2 linked regions of the Homo sapiens genome follow. The protein of the gene in region 1 interacts with the protein of each later gene in a pairwise test. Each region holds a gene or a part of one and is shown in the gene's direction. Other genes may lie near its edges.

Region 1 (3,500 bases):
TGGTGTGATCGTGGCTCACCACAGCTTCTACCTCCTGGGCCCAAGTAATCCTCCCACCTCAACATCTTGAGTAGCCGGGAATCACAGGCATGCACCACCATGCCCAGATAATTTTTAATTTTTCTGTGGAGACGGGATCTCCCTATGTTGCCCAGGTTGGTTTCGAACTCCTGGGCTCAAGCGATCCTCCTTCCTCGGTGTCCCGAAGTGCTAGGATTACAGCTGTGAGCCACCGTACCCAGTCATTTTTAATCTTTTATATTTTTACTTACCTTTTCTAGGTTTAGATATGTTTAAATACACAAATACTTATCATTGTGTTACAGTTGCCTGCAGTATTCACTACAGTAACATGAGTTATAGGTTTGTAGCCTAGAAGCAATAGGCTATACCATATAGCCTAGATGTGTAGTAGGCTATACCATCTTGTGTAAGTACACTCTATGACGGGGTCCTCAACCCCTGGGCCACGGACCATTACCTGTCTCTGGCCTGTTAGGAACCTGGCTGCACAGCAGGAGATGAGCCCTGGGCCAGCAAGCATTACCGCCTGAGCTCCGCCTCCTGTCAGATCAGTGGCCAGTGGCATTAGATTCTCACAGGAGCCTGAACTGCCCACACGAGGGATCTAGGTTGCATGCTCCTTATGAAAATCTAACTAATGCCTGTTGATCTGAGGTAGAACAGTTTCATCCCGAAACCATCCCCCCACCATCCGTGGAAAAATTGTCTTCTACAAAACTGGTCCCTGGTGCCAAGAAGGTTGAGGACCACTGCTCTATGATGTTGGGACAATGACAAAAATCACCAAATTACACATTTCTGGAATGTATCCCTGTCCTTAAGTGATGCACGCCTGTAATCTTTCTCTTTAGATTTAGGACTGATGATTTTTCTCTTTAGATAATAATATAGCTAAGACTGAATTTGCTTTTTCTTTCTTTCATACCACGCTAGTTATTCATTTTGAACTTTTTGCCCCCCAAATCCCTCAGTCTTTTTTAAGTATTTATTTATTTATTTAGACAAGGTCTCACTCTATTGCCAGGCTGTAGTGCAGTGGCGCTATCCTCCTAGGTTCAAGCGATCCTCCCGCCTCAGTTTCCTGAGGGAATATAGGCATGCGCCACCATTCCTGACTAATTTTTGTATTTTTGGTAGAGACAGGGTTTCACCATGTTTCCCAGGCTGGTCTCCTGAGCTCCTGAGCTCAAGCGATCTGCCTGCCTACTGGCCTTTTTTCTAGATTTTTCTTTCTTTCTTTTTTTGAGGCAGAGTCTCACTCCATTGCCCAGGCTGGAGTGCAGTGGCATAATCTCAGCTCACTGCAACCTCCACCTCCCAGGCGCAAGCAATTCTTGTGCTTCAGCCTCCTGAGTAGCTATGACTGCAGGCATGCCAGGCTAATTTCTGTATTTTTAGTAGAGACAGGGTTTTGCTGTGATGGCCAGGCTGCTCTCGAACTCCTGGCCTCAAGTGATCCACCCACCTCAGCCTCCCAAACTGCTGGGATTATAGGCATGAGTCACCACTACTGGGCTTCACTGATCTTTTATATATATATATTTTCATTTTAATTTCGTTTATTTCTATTCTGGTCTTTATTATTTCTTTTCTTCAACTAACTTTGGGTTTGGTTTGCTTTTGCTTTTCTAGTTGTTTAAGATGCATCATTAGGTTGTTCGGAGTTTTTCCTCTTTTTTGATGTAGGCACTCATAGTGATAAACTTCACTCTGTATCCCATACGTTTTGGTATGCTGTGTTTCCATTATCATTTGTTTCAAGAAAATTTTCAATTTTCTTCTTCTTCTTCTTTTTTTTTTTTTTTTTTTGAGATAGAGTCTCCCTCTGTAGCCCAGGCTGGAGCGCAGTGGCACGATCTCTGTTCACTGTGACCCTGCAACCTCCGCCTCCCGGGTTCAAGCGATTCTCCTGCCTCAGCCTCCCAAGTAGCTGGGATTACAGGCACCCACCATCACACTTGGCTAATTTTTGTATTTTTATTTTAACTAATTAATTAATTAATTTTTTGTTTGTTTTGAGACAGAGCCTCACTCTGTTGCCCAGGCTGGAGTGCAGTTGCACCATCTCGGCTCATTGCAACCTCTGCCTCCCAAGTTTAAGTGATTCTCGTGCCTCAGCCTCCCAAGTAGCTGGGATTACAGGCGTGCACCACCACTCCTGGCTATTTTTAAAAAAATATTTTTAGTAGAGACCGGGTTTCACCATGTTGGCCAGGCTGTTCTGGCCAACATGGTGAAACTCCTGACCTCAGGTGAGCTGCCTGCCTCAGCCTCCCAAAATGCTGAGATTACAGGCATGAGCCACCACACCTGGTCCTTTTTTTTTTTTTTTTTTTTTTTTTAATACAGGACCTCTCTTTGTCACCCAGGCTGGAGTGCAGTGGCATGAACGTATAGGTATGCACCACCACGCCTGGCTAATATTTGTATGTTTTGTAAAGACTGGATTTTGCCATGTTGCCCAGGCTGGTCTTGAACTCCTGAGCTCAAGTGATCTGCTTGCCTCGGCCTCCAGATTACAGGAGGTGCTGGGATTACAGGTGTGAGCCACGGTGCCCAGCCTCTATATTTTCTTTTTCTATTATATTTATGATGATTGTTAGGGAGGTAGACATTAGCTAATTTGTTTCATCAAGTCTTCAGAATATAGTTCCAATGTATACTCAATACCAGCCCTGTCCAGTAGAAATATAATGTGAGTTAGAAATGTAACTTAAAATTTTCTAGTAATCACGTTTAAAAAGTAAAAATAAATAGGTGAAATTAATTTTTAATATAATAATAATTTTAATGCTATAGCCCAGCATATTCATACATTTTTGTTCCAGCATATAATCAGTATACAAAATTGCTGAGATATTTTACTTTCTTATTTTAAACTAAGTCTTTGAAACCCATGTGTATTTTACAATTAAAGCACATCCCAATTTGAACTAGCCACATTTTAAGTGCTCAGTAGCCATATATTGCTACCATATTAGAGAGTGCAGATCTAGACTAAAAAGTTTAGTAGTAAAACTCAGTCAAGATAATTGGCTTTCATTGAATCTCAAAGGACTTTATTTGTAATCTTCCCTGAACTATCTTTTCCTTTAAATACAACAATGGGATCCTCAGATTAAGAATGACAGAGTTATTAGGAAATATCCCAAGACAGGGCCACATAGTTTAGAATCATGAGCATACTTATTTTACAGCCTGTACAGAAATCTTACAGATAATCAGTGAGATAATCACTGATGCCACCTGGTATGCACCTATTAGGGGGAATAGTACAGTTTATGGCCGGGTGCCGTGGCTCACGCCTGTAATCCCAGCACTTTGGGAGGCCGAGGCTGGTGGATCATGAGGTCAGGAGATCGAGACCATCCTGGCTAACACTGTGAAACCCCGTCTCTACTAAAAATACAAAAAATTAGCTGAGTGTGCTGGCGGGCACCTGTAGTCCCAGCTACTCGGGAGGCTGAGGCAGGAGA
Region 2 (3,500 bases), on another chromosome or scaffold:
CGCACAGGGCCAGACGCGACTTGCCACCCTCCTTGGCTTGTAGATGGATAACTGAGTTCTACAGGTAGGGATTTGTCTAGGTCTTAAGCTTGAGGTAACCAAAAGAGGATTAGACTTGGATTTTCAAGCCTGTGTAAAGCATGCACTCATACCCTGTCCTCAGTGGGATTTGGACATCTTTGCTACTGGTTGCTGGGGGGAAAAGATGCTGTGGGTGGAAAATGGTATATTAGCCAAGTGACTCTCAATGGACCATTCATATATTTTCTACTCCCTAGTAAATTTATCTTAACATATTAAGAAAACAAAATGGTTCGTAAGTGGTTGTGCTTTTAAAATTTATGGATTTAGCAACATTTTACAGATTTCACTTGTATGACTGAGTTTTTGCTAGTTAGATGAATTGTTAAAAATCTTAAAGAAACGAATGTATCCTATAGTAATATAATTTGAAAACAAATTGTTTTTAGTGTTTTGAATGAAGCACTGCCAACTCCTCAGCATAGATCCTCAGACATACTTTTGAGTAAGGATGCGTTATTAGACCCTATTACTGAAAATATAGTTGAGGCTTTAATATGTATATTAATATAAAGCAGAATGAAAATTTTCCTCTTTTTTTTTTTGTATTCCATTGTATAAATATACCACAATTTATTTCTTCTCCTGGTGACAGTCATTTCAGTTATTTTCAGTTTGGGACTCTTATGAATAAATCTACGATGAATAGACATGTCCTTTGATGGCATATGCATTCATTTCTCTTTGATATATTCAGTGGCATTCATAGAATATTTGATACCTGGAGTAGATCATTTTTAGTGATCCCTATCTTCTATACAGCAAAATTATTTTCAGCAATAATAATGAAATGAAATGGATAATAATGACAAGAAAAAATTACCAGTGGTTTTTTTTTGTATTTAATTTTTAATTTTAAATAATTATATATTTACAGAAAGTGCACAGATAGTACAGAGATCCCATTTACCCTTCACCTAGTTTCCCTCAATGGTTATATCTTACATAATTGTAATACAATATTAAGACAAGGAAACTGATAGTCATGGAAGGTGTGTGTAGAGTTCTGTGCCATTTTATCACCTGTAGACTGTGTAACCACCCTACAATCAAGATACAGAACTATTCCATCACTGCAAAAATCTCCTTCATGTTACTCTTCTAGAGTCATGCCCACTACTCTCACCCCCATCATTCCTAACCCTGGCAACAACTAATCTCTATCCCCATAATTTCATCATTTTAAGAATGTTATATAAATGGAATCACACAATATGTGATCTTTAGAGATTGGCCTTTTTCACTCAACATAATGCCTTTGAGGTCCATCCAAGTTGTTGGAGGTATTGTTAGTTTGTCTTTTTTATTGCTGAGTAGTATTCCATTGCATGAATGTACCTCAGTTTGGTTAAACCGTTCACTTACTGAAGGACATTTTGGTTGTTTCTAGTTTTGCTCTATTATAAGTAAATCTGACAGGAACGTTTGTGTACAGGTTTTTGTGTGAACATATGTTTTTGTTTATTGAGGATAATTATCATATACTATTGCTGGATCATATGCAAATTTGTTTTGTTTTGTTTGAGACAGAGTTTCACTCTTGTTGCCCAGGCTGGAATGAAATGGCGTGATCTCGGCTCACTGCAGCCTCTGCCTCCTGGGTTCAAGTGATTCTCCTACCTCAGTCTCCCGAGTAGCTTGGATTACAGGCATGCACCAACCAAGCCCGGCTAATTTTTTGTATTTTTAGTAGAGATGCAGTTTCTCCATGTTGGTCAGGCTGGTCTTGAACTCCCGACCTTAGGTGATCCGTCCACCTTGGCCTCCCAAAGTGCTGAGATTACAGGCGTGAGCCACCACTCCCAGCCATAAATGTAATTTTTTCTTTTTTAATAAACACTAAACTATTTCCTAGAGTAGCTGTACCATTTTATAATCCCACCAGCGGTATATGAGAGATCCAGTTTTTCCACATCCTGGTCCTTTTGGTAGTGGCGTTATTGTTTTGTTTTGTTTTGTTTTTATTTTTAGCTGTTCTAATAGGCGTGCTGTGATATCTCATCATGGGCTTAATTGGCATTTACCTAATGGCTGGTGATGTTGAGCAACTTTTCATGTGCTTATTTTCCATCTGTACATTTTCTTTGGTGAAATGTCTCTTTATATCTTTTGCCCATTTCTAATTAGATTTTTAGAATTTAGCTTGTTTTAGCTGCTAAGTTTTTGCCTTTTTTTTTTTTTAGCTGTTAAGTTTTAAGGATTCTTTATGTATTCTAGACAGTACTTCTTTGTCCGATACGTGGTTTTTTTCCTAGACTATAGCTTATCTTTTTTTTTTAAATGGTTTTTTCTTTTCTTTCCCCAGACATTCAGCAGTCTTGTCTTATTTATCCTATTAAAAGGATCTTTTACAGAGCAAAAGCTTTTAATATTAATGAAATCAAATTTGTCAATATTTCTTTTATGGATTGTGCTTTTGGTACATTATGAAATTTCTTTTTAAATGCCCTGTAATTATACATGGTTAATGATTAGACCCCAGATTAAGGTAGGCATTTCGAGGGTTTGTTTTGGGGTGTTTTTATTAACGAATACCCTAGGATGTTTGGTCAGAATGCCTGTGGATCAGAGGTAGTCTTGCCTCTGTCAGTTGCTGGCAGAGGTGATGCAATGAAACACCAAAGAATCCAGACTCCAGGGCCACACTGCCAGCTCTTCAGTCCCAGTTCTACCACATATGAAATGGACAAACTTAGGTAAGATGCTTAACTGCTGTGTGCTTCCATTTCCTCATCTGTAAACCAAGGACAATAAAAATAATAAAAATAAATTTGCAGTAATGTTCATTGCCATATTGATTATTATGAAGATTACAAGAGTTCATATGTGTTAAAGTGCTTAGAATAGTGTCTGGCAGATAATAAGCACTTAATAACTTTTGCTAATAATATTCCTACTACTGGTTATGTGACTTGGGAAGACACTTAGGCTCCCTGAGTCTCTGTTGCTTTAACTCTAAGATGGGGATGATACCTGCTACCTGCAAACTATAAAGCACTCACAAACATAAAGTTTTCCTCTTATCAATGATTATTATCATTAGAATAAATAAATATTCTGTCTATCATTTAATTTATTTTTTTAGAAACTGGGTCTTACGGCTGGGCGCAGTGGCTCACGCCTGTAATCCCAGCACTTTGGGAGGCTGAGGCGGGTGGATCACAAGGTCAGGAGATCAAGACCATCCTGGGTAACACGGTGAAACCCCGTCTCCACTAAAAATACAAAAAATTCTCCAGGCGTGGTGGTGGGCGCCTGTGGTCCCAGCTACTCCGGAGGCTGAGGCCGGGGAATGGCGTGAGCCCGGGAGGCAGAGCTTGCAGTGAGCCGAGATCGTGCCACTGCACTCCAGCCTGGGCGACAGAGCGAGACTCCGTCTCAAAAAAAAAAAAAAAAGAAACAGGGTCTTACTGACCTAG

The links. Proteins that work in one complex are often made in the same cells at the same time.
Region 2: the proteins of TEX11 (region 1) and CFAP53 interact in a two-hybrid assay, tested with the Homo sapiens proteins (one large-scale study listed by BioGRID and IntAct).

The regions. Positions count from the first base shown.
Region 1 is NC_000023.11:70,898,712-70,902,211, reverse strand, and holds part of TEX11 (testis-expressed protein 11), read left to right. Parts: intron 1-3,500. UniProt on the Homo sapiens protein: Regulator of crossing-over during meiosis. Involved in initiation and/or maintenance of chromosome synapsis and formation of crossovers.
Region 2 is NC_000018.10:50,252,996-50,256,495, reverse strand, and holds part of CFAP53 (cilia- and flagella-associated protein 53), read left to right. Parts: exon of another isoform or gene 1-731; intron 732-3,500. UniProt on the Homo sapiens protein: Microtubule inner protein (MIP) part of the dynein-decorated doublet microtubules (DMTs) in cilia axoneme, which is required for motile cilia beating.